2 separate regions of the Homo sapiens genome follow, and region 1 is linked to region 2. The links come from fine-mapping of genetic effects on gene expression. A gene starts in region 2. The other region holds a variant in brackets. All regions are shown on one strand. Distances are between the middles of the regions.

Region 1 (8,539 bases), 40 kb before region 2:
AGAAAGAAAGAAAGAAAGAAAGAAAGAAAGAAAGAAAGAAAGAAAGAAAAGAAAAATGGGTGGGGGCTAAGACGGGGGAGAGGCTACTATTGCTAGCCTCTGGGGTCTACATTTTGTATTTCGCTGACAGCCCAGGGCCGCTCCAAAGCCCGCCGCGCAGCCAATGGGCAGCGGTGATTTATGGAGCTGACTAACGCGCGCTGAATGCGGCCTGTCAGAGCTCTGTGAATGGCTTCCCTTCGCCGCACAAGCCCCGGCTTTGTGTTGCTAAGCGATTAGAGCAGATGTAATGAGATTTTGCCCAATCCTCGCTTTGCCCTTTCCTAGCTTAGGCAAAATTGTGTGTGTTTTTGTGAATTTTTCGAGTTTGCCTTCGCATTGTGGCAAACAACGACTAACTTTGCCTCGAGTTTAACGAGACTGGATATTTCCCATTCAGAAGTGAGTAAAGAACACCTGTCCTCACAGGAGAAGGAAAAAAAAATCCCCCTTTGTGGGGGCTGAAACATTATCCTAATGTTATATTCATAGCCATAAATGACTTGCTACACTTTCTTTGCATACCTTATCTGGAATCTTGCAAAGGAGCTAAATTAAAGGAAAGAGAAATGGAGAGTGGGGGTGGAGCCCATCTCTGGTCCTCCAAATGAGAAGATAAAAATAAAAGCAGGCATCACAAAAGCATTACTTCTCTCAAGTAAGCTCTAAATTGGCCCACTGCTGGCAGAAAGTCCGATTATTTATGGCGATGAGGAATTTACTGATTTTTTTTCCTTAATTACGCTCATCTCTTTGAAAGGGACTGAAGCCTCAATGTGCATTCTATAGAGGGTCATTTAGCAAAATGACATCAGACGCTGTGGCGTGCTCCGCGCATCGTGGCTTTAAAAAATGATTATTCTGTGCCACTAAATGGTATAGATGTACCAACACAGACTAGATTTTTAACTCTGGAAGACGTGCTGGCTACCCGTTCTTTGTTGGGTTTTGTAAGATGCATTTTGCGCTCGGCTTTCCGCTTGGCTGGAGACACGCAAACTGAATCTGCAAGTAATGCAGGCGGCGAGCGAGGAGCCGGCGAGAGGCCGAGTAGGATTCTAATCACGTCCTTGCTAACTGACAAGAAGCAAGCCAGCCAAAAACCCACCAATTTCTTTTTGAATCTTGGTAATTGGGTACTTTTACACGCAGCTCACGCTATTCGGATAGAGTCACAAGCTTAGATAGACCAGTGTCTCAAAGCGACCACACATTTCTAATGCGTTTTTTTAATTAAAATCTCAATCCGTTTGGAATGAATTCATATCATATATGCCTCTTACTTAAAATCAATATAGCAAGTAGGTGTATTGGAGAAAATGAGTAGAAAATGTATGCCTGGAAGTGAGGGAAGAGAAACATACTCACCACTAGGAGCTTGTATGTGGAGAGGGATGCCTCTCCAACCCCCATCCCAGAACCACCATCCTCCCCACCCAGACCTAGTCTCCATTATTTCATCCAGCCCCACCATAGTTTCACAGGGAGAAACTCAGAATGGAGTTGAGAATTGGAAAATGGTGGAGGACCCTCTCTTTCTGGTTCACTTTTTTGGGGGATTTTAAATTTTGATCAAAGGATAATGCAGCCATCTATTCTTTTTGGTGGGCATGTACATTTGCAGCATAGGATAGAAAGAAAACATATATACATGTACATACACACACACACACACACACACACAAACACACACTCATTCATCATAAAGAAACCATTTGGATGGGACTGGCCATAGCACTTATCATTGTCATTTCTGCCACTTAGCATGTTTTGCAACATTTTCTTCTCCATCCACCTCTTCCCTTTGACATTTTCATAAAACTGGACCAGGGGCATCAGAGTCAAAGAAAGCTTAGAGTCAGCTGATTATTTTCATTTTAAAAAAAGGAAAAAGTTTTATTACGAAACTAGTTTGTATAAAACAGGGTTATACATATTTTTGTAAGTTTGTAATAAAACAGTAAGAAAAAAAAAGGCAGTAATAGAAATCTCCAAAAGGCAACCTATCAAAACCAACTGGCTGCCACTTTGAGTTTGGACAGTAGCTGCATAAACTTTGTTCTTCTTGAACAGTATTTAATAACATCATTAATACATTAACAACATTTCTATAAAGTAAGACACATTGGTGCTGAAGTACAACTGGTGGCCTCTTGATCTCACCTATGAGGAGAGTTCTTTACAAAACCACATAGGGAAAATTGCAGTTGTAAGGTGAACTACACATCTAAAATATGCAGAGGTAATAGCATTACATGTTAAAGTATCAAGATATACACATTTTAAACCATTTGTACAAAACTTCTATAAATTTTTCTCTCTCTTTCTCTCTTATGTACAAAAATATCTTAATATATCCCCGAACTGGTTAGGATAGATACAAATAGATTTTTTATAATAAAAAATTCACAAAAGATTGGAAGCATTCTATAATGAAAATGGTAGAAAAGACAGTGTGAGGGAAGCCATGGGGTTTGGGAATCGGGCCCTGGAGGAGAAGCAGAGTTTCAAAGGGCTGAGAATAGCATAGTTTCACTGTAAACCAATGTCTACAGCTTATTGGGGTGGGGGCTACTGAGACGAAAGACACCAACTCGTTTCTAGAGGGCTAAGAACTGCACTTTAAGAAAGGGCGAGGAGGTGAAGGGACCCGAGCAAGAACTTTCAGCTGTGCGTGTTAGAGGTGATGGGAGTTACTATAACGCGTGTGCTGCTCCCTTCTGCCAGGAGCCCACTGCTTTTGCACACAAGCTGCATTTTGCGCATTGACTCAGGTCCCAGTTGCTCTTCATATCTCCGTGAATGATTGGAGTGCAAAGATACTGTTCTGAGCGCTTCCCGTTTTCTGAAAGCCATGTCTCTCAGGCATGCCTCGCTTAGTTGGCGATGGGGTTGGTTGACTGTTTTCGTTTTTTTCTTCTTCTCTTTTCTTCTTCTTCTTCTTTTTTTTTTCTTTTCCTTTTCTCCCCCTCCCAACGCCACTGACAAGAAAGCACTAAAGATGCAGGTTGTGCGATCACCCTATAACATAAGGAAAAGAACAGGAGAGGTTAATTTGAACGTGTAGGCTAGTGGTAGAGGGAGATGGAGGTCTGGGGAAAGAGTCTGTCAGGTAGACATCTCTTTTAACATGTCCCAGTATTCGGTTCACCAGTATCTCTGCACCTCACTACTACCCTTCACTCCTTGGAGACCTGGGCAAGGCCATTTTCAGAGGCCAGTGCTGAAACTAACAAACTAGGACTTGAAATCGACCAACTTTCACAAATTCTTTAAATAAAAATCCCCTTATCTCCTTGGAGACATCCCCACTTCCACAGACACTCAGAGGGAGGACGAAGGCAAGAATACCCCCCTGCCCACCCCAAAATGCAACCTACCTGCTTCCAAAGTCCATTCGCACCAGGGCCTGACCAGGCCGAGCCCCTCAGAACCAGTTGGTGAAGTCGAGAAGCTCCTGCTCCTCGGGGCTGAGCGGGTCGTAAGAGCCCTCGTCCGACGAGTAGGATGAGACCGGCGAGCCGGCCATGGAGTTCAAGTCGTTGGAGTAGTTGGGGGAGATGGTGGGCGACAGGACGCCTGCCTGGAAGGCGGCGCTCACCGCGTCATGCTCGTCCAGCAGCTGCTGCAGCGCGCGGATGTACTCGACCGCCGAGCGCAGTGTCTCCACCTTACTCATCTTCTTGTTGGCCGCGCCGTTGGGGACGTGCTCCCGAAGGGTGGCAAAGCCCAGGTTGACCAACTTGACGCGGTTGCGCTCGCGCTCGTTGCGGCGCGCCACGGCGGCCGGCTGCTGCTGCGGCAGGCTGTAGCCAAAGCCGCTGAAGTTGAGCCGGCGTTTGCAGCGCATCAGTTCGGGCGAAGACGAGCGCTGTCGCTTGACTTGCTTGGGCGCTGACTTGTGACCGCCCCCTGAGGGCTGGCCGTCGGCCGCCGGTCTCAGCTGCGGCGCCTGCTGCTGCTGCTGCTGCTGCTGCTGCTGCTGCTGCGCGCTCTGCGCTGCCGCTGCGGCGGCTGCGGCCGCCGCGGCTGCGGCCGTGGCAAAGAAACAGGCTGCGGGCGGCAGGAAGGGCTGCTGGGGCTGCGGCTGGGGCTGCTGGCCGGCGCCGCCGCTCTCCATCTTGGCAGAGCTTTCCATGCGCAGCGGCGGCCAAGGAGTCGCGGAATCAGAGCGATCCGGGACGCGAGGTGCGGGGCCCGCGAGGGGGACACAGAGAGAACTTGGGTGCAGGAACAGAGAGGGAAAGAAAAGGAAATATGAAGCGGGAGCCCTGACGGAAGTTAAAAAATATATACAAAATCCCCGGGAGACTTCTTAGAGTGGGAGCAAAAAA[A/G]GTGAAAATGCTTTTTCTCCTCCCTGCACGCCGCCTCCTCCTCCCTCCCCTCCTCCCTTCGCGGGTTGGCTTCGGGAGCCTCGCGTGGCGCTCGCGTGTGAGGCTGCCGCTGGCGCCTTCTTGTTTCTAAGAAAAAAAAAAGCAGAAGCAGCAGCAAAAGTCAGTGCTGAACGCGCTCTGCCGCGTCTCGCGTTCCTCTCCTACTAAGGCTGCGCTCTCTTGCGCCGGGTCTCGGTCTCTCCAGCCGTGGCTCAGGCTGTTTTTATTATTTTGTTAACTCCCTTCCTTTCTGATTTCCTTCTTTCACTCGCCCTCCCTGGCCGGATCCCTGTCGGTGCGCCTTCCACGTTCCCTGGCCAGAAGTGAGAGAGTGCTGGGCTGCCGGAGTGCGTCCGCCTTTTCAATGGGACACCCAGCCCCACGCGCAGCCCTGGCCCCGCCTCGCCCCCCACTCCCCGCTGCTGCAGCGAGCGGCTGCAGCCCCCACTCCCCCCCCTCCTCTTACCTCTTCCTCCCACCCACTCCCTAAACTCCCCCTCCTCCTCTCCTCTCCCCCCCTCCCGTTCCTTTCTCCCGCTCCTTGCAAACTCTCCATTCAGCTGGGTTTGTTGTTGCAGTGCGTGCGCCTGGCGCGTGCCGGACTCCCGGCTGAATAAACAGGCGGCGCGCTCGGGGCGGGCTGCTGCCGGGGGTGGCTTTAGGAAGGGGGTGGGGGGCGTCACAGGAGGGACAAATGGCTCTAGGAATTGAGGTGTATAGGTGGAAAGACTTGGGGTGAAGCTCTCTTGGATTCTACTAAGAACTTGAAGCAAAGCGCAGGGAAGGGTTTGGGCAGAAAAAATGGCACAGGAACGGTGTGGAGGTGAGGAGGGAGTGGGGCTCGACTTTTCCTGTTTTCTCTCTCTCCTCACTGTTATTCTCTTCGGGTTCCTCGGTGACCCTAGAAATTGGAGCAAATTACGATTGAAGTTTAGAAACATGGTTGGGGGAGGGACTCCGTCCAGAACAGTGAAAAAAAGTGCTGGACTATGTGAAAACGTGGGTTCTAGTCCCAAGGCGTCCTCTCAATGCTCTGTGGCTCCTCGAAGTGGCATCCTCTCTGAGCCTTCGCTTCCTCGTCTGCAGCCACAGAATATGGTCTCTAATGTCCCATTCAGCTCTAAAAACTAGGATGTGCTCCCCATAACTGAGCAAGTGTGTGGGGGGCCGCGGGGAAGCGACACCGAGGAGTGGTTGTGAGCCGTCCTGTAGGTGGGTGTATATGGCAGGGACGTCCCCCTAGGATGACCTCTGGCCCCCTGTACCATCGCCCCCTACCGCCACCCCCTCCCCATAAAGATTATTTCCGGACCAGCTTAGCGGATATCATAAAGAAGGGAGTGCTCTGGGATACTCCCAGACCCTCGGAGAAGAAAGATGCGGGGCGGGGGTTGAGTGATGGCGCTTAGGGCACTGGTGGGGATTCCTGGTTCTTCGGCGCCGCCGCGGGCACCTCGGCGGCCTTGGCGCAGCCACCATCCCGCCCCAGGCGTGTGCCCGGCGGCCCGGTGGCAGGCGACTGGGAGCGGAGCCCGGCGGGGCCGCGTGCTGGCGCCGAGAGGGAGGGGGAGGCGCTTGCAGCCGTCGCTCGACCGCTTGGACAGCGCCTGCCCAGGCGTCCTTCCTGGGCCTTCGGCCCTGGCGCTCTCTGGCCAGAACCCCGTCCAGCTTCAGGACGTCTGGGGACGCGGCGCTGCGGAGAAAGCAGACCAAGCAATAGGCCCCATCTCTTTAAGGATCTGGTCCGGAGAGAGGCTGGGGCATGTCTCAGGTCTTGTCTACATAGGCAGAACGAAGTGGAGGGCAATCATCCATTTGATTTTCCAGTAGAAATAATCCGAGATCTGGGTGCAGGAATGATTGTGGTGAATTATCCGGATAATTGGTTCTAATTGAACTCCCCTTTGTGGAGGTGGATCTTTCTAAAGGGCCAAGGGGATGACCCAGGGAGCTGCTCTTGGTATGTGGGCTGGCTGAGTGTTTCTGGAACAATAGTGATGATGGTGGGCAGTAATGACGGGCGGCTCCCGAAGTGAATCACCTCTCTTCTCTACCTCAGTTTCATCTTTGCAGAATAGGTAGGCTTCAGAGGTATAGGACCAAATCGTGCCAACAGAGGTCAATTCTGTAACCTTTCCCAGCCACACAGCCCCTTCTCCCCATGGTAACCTGTGGCTTGATGGCCTCACAGGACTGGCTGAACCCCGTGGGATTCACACCTCAGGCCTTTCTCCACATCCCTGACCAAGGAAAGGGCCTAAGAGGTCTCTGGAAGTATAGGAGGTGAGCACCCAAAAGCAGAGTCACAACACAGCCTGGGCACCCTGCACCTCCCAGCCAGAGTAAGCCTCAGACCACTTGCAGAAATAGGAATTATTCAGGCACTCCTTACCCACCTCCCACATGACCCAGCTGTGTCCTAATGCCCCATTCACTCTATTTCAGCCAAATAGTTGAGTGTTGGGGGTGGGAGGGAGTGTCGCAAATGTGGAAGCATCTAGATGTGTTTTCTTTTACATTAAGCTGAAACATGAGCCCCAAACTCCCTACTAACTTGGACTCACTTCACAAAGGTCCCGAGTCTGAGCTCTACCACAATGGTGCCTTATAACCTTGAACAAGTCCCTCTGCCTCTACTGGCCTCAGTTTTCTGATCTACACACAAGGGATGTACAGTAGCTAATTTTGAAACTTGTATCTAACAGCTTAGAAAATTTGCTGGTAGCCAGCACGTGTTTCCTTTTCCAGGATGCATACACAGAGATCTCAATACCAGGGAAGTAGAGGACAGAACCTCCTCTCCTCCTCCCCCCTACACACACCATGAAATGGGTGCCCAAATGGAGTGGAAGTGCATTGTAGTGAAGAAGCCTTGTCTTGTAGTGGCCTTACTCATTGGCCTCAGGCCAGGAGGAAGGACAGTCGTTGCTGGGATCCTTCTGGCCAAAACCGCCAGAACATTTGTCTCTATTCTCCCTATGCCAGCCCTGAGCCTGACCTCACTCTTCTCACCCTAGTATGCTAAGTTTTCTTCCTTACATGCTTTGCAAAGCCTTCCAAGAACCGAGGCGTTCTCCTCCCCCCACTCAAGTAAACCTGGAGTTTGCACCTCAACACTGTCATCTCCACTTTCTCCTCCAACCCTAGGGTAGAACAGTCTATAATTTTTCTTTAGAGGTTTGCATTTCTATCCTTGGGGATTCTACCAAGAGAGTTTTCCATTGATATTGGCTTTCTGGTTGTTTTCACCAGTGTGAAGCAAAAGATGGGAGGCTCAGGAGCCAAAATTAGAATCCTGCCTCTGACTGTGTGACCTAGATTATAATCCCTCCTCCCGACCTGAGAGAACTGGCCACATGTTCTGCTCTCCTAGGCCCATGGAATTCCAGATAAAGCAGGCTGATTTGACTTGGTATCTAGGCCCCTTTACCTGAGAGCTGTGTGACCCTGAGACACTCTAGGGGTCTCTATTTCACCTATGCCAGTAATTATAGTATCTACCTCCAAGAGTTGTGAGACTTCAATGATATGTATGTAGAGCACTCTAGCCCAGGTCTAAAGAGAAAGGGATTAATAAGAAAGTCATGCTCACACAACCCACCCAGGAAAGGGTGTGTGGCAGGAGGAGCCTCAGCACTTGGCTTCCTGGAACCACTCTGTGATCATCACTCCAGCCAATGGAGATCCAGTGCCACTCTGTCTCACTGTCCCAGCACCTAGGGGTGAGTCATTCCTGTCATTTTTGAGAAATGGTGGTGATACTGGCATATTAAGATGATGGAGATAGTAACCCGATTTTTAGACATGAAAAGTAGCAAGTAAGATAGACTATAGAGATGTTCTGTGGCCTCCACATGCAAGGGGCTTCAGCAGAGCCACTGGGCCCTGCTTTCTTGGCTCCCTTGCCACACAGTGGGCCTGATTCTGAGCAAGTCCTTAGGGCTTTAGTTGGCTAAGACACTTGAACAATGTCCCATTTATCTTCACATGAAGGGAGAAGTAAACAACTCACAAAAGGAAGGTTTGATACCTTCATTCATAAATGAGGTGGTAGTACTCCCTTTGCCTGTATGTCAAGGGTGTTATGAGAATTAAATCAGATGTTGTTGGGTAATTTGCTTTGCAAG
Region 2 (8,000 bases):
AAAGTTATATCTAAAAGGAAAAAATTATATAACTTGGAGCAAAAAAATAAAAATACAGCAAAAAAATTAAAATATAAGGGATAACTTTCAAATCAGAGAAAGAAAATTTGATCTATATATCTAGCGGAAAGTTAAAATAGGCTCTATGGTGAGAAAATCCCAAAAGACAATTGATTGTGGGATTGGCCTCTTTAAGTTAAGTGGTATTACCTGGACTGTGGGACCATGTTGAAAAGCCTCTAAGAAATCCCCAAGGCATGTACAGGTATATCTACAATGCAGGTAGATTAAAGATCTAGCTATGATAGATCTAGATGCTAGAGAGAAGAGCACCTCTTTGGAACTTTGGGATGGGGAAGGACTTCTTAAACAATACTCTATAGTACAAACCACAAAAATTTTTAAAAGGATGGACTTGTTATTTCAAAATTACTTGTTTTATTGTTTAATCAAGGAAGGACACCAGTTGACAATTAACTGACAGTGACACATTGGGAGGCAATGTGTTCAGTGACTGAGAAGGGCACAGAGCTAATATTTGGACACAGAGCTAACAGAAATTATTGCAACAAATCTACAAGACAGGAATCCTAGTAGAAAATGGGTAGAAAATATGATGATAAACTATTCATAGCATGGGAAATCTAAGAGGTATAAGTATATAAAGAGATGCTCAAACTCATGAGTTATGAGAGAAATTCAAATTAAAAACAACAAGACACCAGCTTATGCTGATCAGATTGGCAAAAATTCTGACCTTTGGAGAATACCACATATTAGGTATACCCACCAATAGGAACTCTTTTGCCTGCTGGTTGGTGTGTAGACTGGTCCAAGCCACTCTAAAGGGCAATCTGGCAGCACTTTGTGAAATTAAGAGTGCATGTTCCCTATGATTCATAATAGCACCACTCTTCTATCCCAGAAAATTTCTACCCCAGGCCTATAAGGGAAGAAAGATAAGGAAATTTATCACAGTATTGTTTGGGGTGGTGAAAAATTAGCAATGACTTAGATGTCCATAACTGGAAAATAAAGAAGTCAAGTGTGGCAAATACACACTGGGATATTCTGAACCATTTAGAAAAGCAAAGAACTAGATACATATTCAGCAGCATGGCTGGATCCTAAGAACACAGTTGAAAGAAAAAAGAAACTATGAAATCTATAGTACATCCATAGATTGTAGTAAATCTATAGTGCCACATCACATATCCATGAAAAATACATATACGCACAAACATTTCTATGTATTTTACAAGTTCAAGGCTAAACATCATATTAGAGAAGTTGCCTCTGGGGAAAGGCAGTGAGAGTGAGGAATTATGATAAAAGAGAATGAATAAAAAAACAAGAGAAGGGTCATGTAGGTTTTGTTTCTGTGCCATGAACTCATGGATTATGATTAACTCAACCTTCTGCACATGAAGATAAACAAGAAAGAACTGATAAACCTGCAATGGTTGGGTAATCTTCAACTTCCAAATCAGCAAAGGTCAGCTCTAAGTTTGCCAAGTACACAACTTCTCATCTTGTGACATGTTCCCCACCTCTGTGCAGTGTTAAAAAATACCTCAGTGGTCTACTGACTGACTGTGGATGCTTCTTCTAGATGTGCCTTTTTTTCCTCCATTTCCTTAGCACCCAGCACTGCTCTCATTATAGCAGCACATTGCATTCCAACCAAATTGAACAAAAAGGTGGCTTAAAAATCATCTGCAAGTTTATGGCACAAGCAATCTCTTATTTTTATCTTAGTGCATAAATAAATTTTTCCTTTTTGCCAGAATAATTTTTTTTAAAGAAGCGATTAGTTTTTCTTCTCTCAGATAGCAATGATGTGCTTTCCTCTCAACCTAGATTTAGGGCATTTTTATGTGAGATAGGATTAAAAATTCCATTTTTGTACAACCACTATGGAGAACAGTTTGGCAGTTCCCCAAAAAACTAAAAATAGAGCTACTATATGATCTAGTGATCCCACTGCTGGGTATATACCTATAAGAAAGGAAATCAGTATATCAAAGAGATGTCTGTTCTTTTATGTTTGTTGCAGCACTGTTCACAATAGCCAAGATCTGGAAGCAACCCAAGTCTCCATCAACATGGGTTTTAAAAAAATGTGGTACTTTAATACACAATGGAGTACTATTCAGCAATAAAAAAGAATGAGATCCTGTTATTTGCAATAACATGGACAGAACTGGAGGTCATTATGTCAAATGAAATAAGCCAGGCACAGAAAGCCAAACATCACATATTCTCACTCATATGTGGGGTCTAAAAATCAAAACAATCTGATTCATGGAGCTAGAGAGTAGAGAGCTAATTACCAGAGGTGGGGAAGGGTAGTAGGGGCCTGGAGGGGAGGTGGAGATGGTTAATAGGTACAAAAAAATATAGAAAGAATGAATAAGACCTAGTATTTGATAGTACAACAGGGCGAATATAGTCAAAATAATTTAATTATACATTTAAAAATACCTGAAAGAGTATAATTGGCTTGTTTGCAACACAAAAGATAAATGCTTGAGGGGATGGATGCCCCATTTTCAATGATGTGATTATTACACATTGCATGCCTGTATCAAAATATTGCACATACTCCATGAATGCATACATCTACTATGTTCCCACAAAAATTAAACATTAGAAAAAAGAGTTGCATTTTCAGCTGTTATGGGGAGAAGAAAGAAAAGCTATCATTTTGTTGTCCTAAAAATTATGTTGTCCTCATTTCAAACAGGAAAGCAAAAGTATTTGAGAGCCAGTGCAGTGCCTTGGTGTTGGGTGAAACATAGATTGAATTTGGGCCATTTGTTTAAACTTCCTAGGCCTCAGTTTCTTGCCTATTAAAAGGGAGTGCATAGTTCATGGGATTGTTAAGAGGAAGAAGTGAAACCATGCACGTGGAGAGCGTGGCACAGTGTCTAAGACAGAGTGTGCATGCAAATAAGTAGATAATATTCTTTGCTTTTCTTTATTGCATGCCTGTAATATTTTTGGAGTTGTCACATTCATTGCCCTCAAGTAGCATCAAGGGATGAAATTATGTTTGTAAGAAAATCCTGAGGCTGAGGAATACAACATGTTTTATGTCTACTACACTGAAAAATGCCGGAGTCAGATAAAGAATACAGATTCTCCTGAGGATGGAAATCAAGATCTTCGCCTTCAATATTTAACAACATTGAGCTTCCAACTTACTATGGGAAATATTCATCAGGCCCCTAAAGGTTCCTTTTGGACAGAAATTGCACTTGTTATATCTGTATTCTTAGCAGACAGTAGACAGCCTGGCACATCATAAAGGCTTAAGGAATCCTAAATATCCCTTAAAATTCTCATTTTAAAGACAAAAACAAAACAAAAAAAAAAAACAAAAAAAAACTGAGGCATGGGCTTGACCAAATCAGTGGTAGAACCAAGAGTTAAACCACTTGTTTTGAATCCTAAACCTGAGTTTTATTTTACTTATTTATTTATTTATTTGTTTATTTATTTTCAGATGCTTGGTCAAAGAACAGTGGGAGGAGAGGGATGGGCTTCCAGCAACCTTTATTATTGGCTTATTTTCTTACAGCCCATTACTTTCTCTTGGGAAAATATTAAGCAGGCACTCAAGGCTTGAGGCCCCTGAGTTTTCACATCCTTTCTGAACCTCTGAACCTGCTTTCCAGCATTCTTTTATACTTTGTTTTACCTCCTGGTCAGTAATGCCTCACCCTCAGTCTTCTCTAAAAGTGTGGTTAATGGCATCTTCCTGACTATTTGAAGACCACTGGCCAAATCCCACCAGCTCACTCATAGACCATCCCCCTACTTTACTTTCTTCAAAAGACTTAGCCCTACCTAAACTTATTTATATGTTTATTTTCTGCCCACCAGAATGGCAGCATAGCTGGGGAGGCAGAGTCTGTTTTGTTCATTGCTGTATTCCCAAAGACTAGAACACCACCAAGCACACGGTACAGGTCTCAGTAATTATTGTCAAATTTATGTGGATTTGCTTTTAAACAATATCTTCCATTTACTGAGTGTTTATGTGGAAGAACTGTACTAAATTTTAATGCATTTCTTTATTCCTATTCTTAAAACCTTCCAGCAAGGTGGCTCTACCACCCTCTTTTCCGAGCTTCAGGAGCAGTTGTGCGAATAGCTGGAGAACACCAGGCTGGATTTAAACCCAGATCGCTCTTACATTTGCTCTTTACCTGCTGTGCTCAGCGTTCACGTGCCCTCTAGCTGTAGTTTTCTGAAGTCAGCGCACAGCAAGGCAGTGTGCTTAGAGGTTAACAGAAGGGAAAACAACAACAACAAAAATCTAAATGAGAATCCTGACTGTTTCAGCTGGGGGTAAGGGGGGCGGATTATTCATATAATTGTTATACCAGACGGTCGCAGGCTTAGTCCAATTGCAGAGAACTCGCTTCCCAGGCTTCTGAGAGTCCCGGAAGTGCCTAAACCTGTCTAATCGACGGGGCTTGGGTGGCCCGTCGCTCCCTGGCTTCTTCCCTTTACCCAGGGCGGGCAGCGAAGTGGTGCCTCCTGCGTCCCCCACACCCTCCCTCAGCCCCTCCCCTCCGGCCCGTCCTGGGCAGGTGACCTGGAGCATCCGGCAGGCTGCCCTGGCCTCCTGCGTCAGGACAACGCCCACGAGGGGCGTTACTGTGCGGAGATGCACCACGCAAGAGACACCCTTTGTAACTCTCTTCTCCTCCCTAGTGCGAGGTTAAAACCTTCAGCCCCACGTGCTGTTTGCAAACCTGCCTGTACCTGAGGCCCTAAAAAGCCAGAGACCTCACTCCCGGGGAGCCAGCATGTCCACTGCGGTCCTGGAAAACCCAGGCTTGGGCAGGAAACTCTCTGACTTTGGACAGGTGAGCCACGGCAGCCTGAGCTGCTCAGTTAGGGGAATTTGGGCCTCCAGAGAAAGAGATCCGAAGACTGCTGGTGCTTCCTGGTTTCATAAGCTCAGTAAGAAGTCTGAATTCGTTGGAAGCTGATGAGAATATCCAGGAAGTCAACAGACAAATGTCCTCAACAATTGTTTCTAAGTAGGAGAACATCTGTCCTCGGTGGCTTTCACAGGAATGAATGACCATTGCTTTAGGGGGTTGGGGATCTGGCCTCCAGAACTGCCACCAATTAGCTGTGTGTCTTTGGACAAGTTACTGTCCCTCTCTGTTGTCTGTTTACTCTTCTGTACACTGAAGGGGCTGGTCCCTAATGATCTGGGATGGGATGTGGAATCCTTCTAGATTTCTTTTGTAATATTTATAAAGTGCTCTCAGCAAGGTATCAAAATGGCAAAATTGTGAGTAACTATCCTCCTTTCATTTTGGGAAGAAGATGAGGCATGAAGAGAATTCAGACAGAAACTTACTCAGACCAGGGGAGGCAGAAACTAAGCAGAGAGGAAAATGACCAAGAGTTAGCCCTGGGCATGGAATGTGAAAGAACCCTAAACGTGACTTGGAAATAATGCCCAAGGTATATTCCATTCTCCGGGATTTGTTGGCATTTTCTTGAGGTGAAGAATTGCAGAATACATTCTTTAATGTGACCTACATATTTACCCATGGGAGGAAGTCTGCTCCTGGACTCTTGAGATTCAGTCATAAAGCCCAGGCCAGGGAAATAATGTAAGTCTGCAGGCCCCTGTCATCAGTAGGATTAGGGAGAAGAGTTCTCAGTAGAAAACAGGGAGGCTGGAGAGAAAAGAATGGTTAATGTTAACGTTAATATAACTAGAAAGACTGCAGAACTTAGGACTGATTTTTATTTGAATCCTTAAAAAAAAAAATTTCTTATGAAAATAGTACATGGCTCTTAGGAGACAGAACTTATTGTACAGAGGAACAGCGTGAGAGTCAGAGTGATCCCAGAACAGGTCCTGGCTCCATCCTGCACATAGTTTTGGTGCTGCTGGCAATACGGTCCCCACAACTGTGGGAAGGGGTTAGGGGCAGGGATCTCATCAGGAAAGCATAGGGGTTTAAAGTTCTTTATAGAGCACTTAGAAGATTGAGAATCCACAAATTATATTAATAACAAACAAAGTAGTGTCGTGTTATATAGTAAATGTGAATTTGCAGACACATTTAGGGAAAAGTTATAATTAAAAAAATAGGCTGTATATATATCAATGGTTCCAAAATTTTCTATGGTTAAGAATCACCTGGGATGGTTTTGAAATGGCAGATTCTAAGACAACTTGATTCAACAGGTTTAGGTAAAGCCCAGGGAACTGCATTATAAGAAGGAATCACCTGTAATTTTGGAGTCAAGATCCAAGGAACACTCATTGAGAAACACTGATTTACAAAGTGCATGGAGAGAAATGGAGCAAGTGAAGGGGGATCAGCATGGTGAAATATAGGCTGTTAGGAGTGCTATTGACTAACTGTCTGGTGACTGGACCAGAGTAAATCTTTTACTTTGCAAGAAACAGGACTAAATTCCCATATTATGTCCATAGCAAAGGGAATTATGTAGAAAAATTGATAATTAGGAGCCTGAGTTCTTGACCAGCCTCCACTACCTATGTGGCCTCAGGTGAGTTATTTTCTCCCTTTGGCTCTAAGTTTTCCCCATCTGTAATGTAAGGGAGTTTAACTAGATGAGCACTAAGGACAAATCAATTTCTGTGAGTCAATTATTATGAAATACCATGTGGGCATCAAATGCCAAGTGGAAAGCATAGATAAAGAAGTGATTGTGCACCTGGGCTGAGGGGAACAAACATTTCCTAAGAGAATTGAGACCCAAAAGAGCCTTTAAGGAAGGTGAGATCTTGGAAAGGGAAATTTGGTGAATACTCTAATGAGGAGCTAAAAAGGCAAGAAAGAAAGCAGCTTGGCTGGAAAGGAGGTTCCTGTAGGTGGGCCTCCAGAGATTCGGTACCACAGAAACTGCCAAACATCAGCAAGAAGCCATGGGGATGGAGCGTTTGAGGGATTCTAAATAGAAGGACAAGAGTAAAAATGTCAGGCTGGATCGATGCAGGCCACTAAGAAATGGATTCAGGTGATGGCAGTGGGAAGAAAGGACCTGATGCCCAGAGGCATTTCTGGAGAAGATGAGATCAGACTTGTGATTGGCTGAACACACACTGTAGTGGGGTGGGGTTTAGGGGGTGACTCAACTTCAAGCCCAGGTACATTCAAGTCTGAATTGCCCTAGTCAAAAGTGGCATCTGTGGATGTGTATCAGAAATATCTTACTTTTCTTGGAAGCCAACAGGAGAAAAGAGTGCTACCAAGTGAACTAGAGACAGGAATATCTTTTGTCATTTCAAGGAAACTGGAAAGAAGAAGGCTCAGTATTCTTTAGTAGGAAGAAGACTTAAGTCAGAGACTCATCTGTACCTCTCTGGCAGGGTTTAAAAGGGGGAAGAGGAATAGAGGCTGCAAGAGATTGTGATTCATGGACAGTATGCAGAGATCAAATGACCTGGGTTCAGATCCTGGCTCCACTGCTAACTGTGTAACTATAGGCAAGTTCCTTAACCTCTCTAAGCCTTAATCTTGTCATCAATAAAAGGGGGCACTTGGTGCCTAATAAAACCTACCTCTTAGGTTGTTGCCAAATTACATGAGATAATCCAAATCAAGTGCTTATTATAATACCCAGAAATTATAGGCTCTAAATAAATGTTTATATAGGCTCTAAATAAATGAAGTTTTTTAGAAAGATAACATCATGATCAAAATGGGATATTTAACAGTTTAGTCTTCCATTTCATTTGAAGCTCCCTAAAATCACTCTTGCTGATAAATTTGTTTTTTCCTTCACACCTCAGTTTCATGGGATGTTTTGGCAAAAATCTGAATTTTCTGAATTGAAAGAATTTTTTGCTAAGGGTCATCAGTATTCATGCAGGGCTTGTTATTCTGAGTCACTAAGAGTTTCCTAACACAGCCTTCTCTCATTGAGATGATGTAACATCTATTCCATTAATTTCATTAACTTGCTTACAAGAGAGTAATTGTTCTGCA

Evidence for each region.
Region 1: its variant is fine-mapped to the expression of PAH in prefrontal cortex (BrainSeq, PIP 0.95).

What each region holds. Positions count from the first base shown.
Region 1 is chr12:102,953,883-102,962,421 of GRCh38, reverse strand. It overlaps ASCL1 (achaete-scute family bHLH transcription factor 1), which reads right to left and starts at 4,748. Exons shown (of 2, transcript NM_004316.4): 1 at 3,420-4,748; 2 at 1,909-3,060. The coding sequence starts at 4,177. The coding sequence ends at 3,467. It also overlaps a transcript of PAH not described here. RefSeq lists enhancers at 1-1,872, 3,218-3,749, 3,750-4,281 and a silencer at 4,042-4,111. The variant A/G (reference allele first, on the strand shown) is at 4,374.
Region 2 is chr12:102,913,951-102,921,950 of GRCh38, reverse strand. It overlaps PAH (phenylalanine hydroxylase), which reads left to right and starts at 4,707. Exons shown (of 13, transcript NM_000277.3): 1 at 4,707-4,880. The coding sequence starts at 4,821.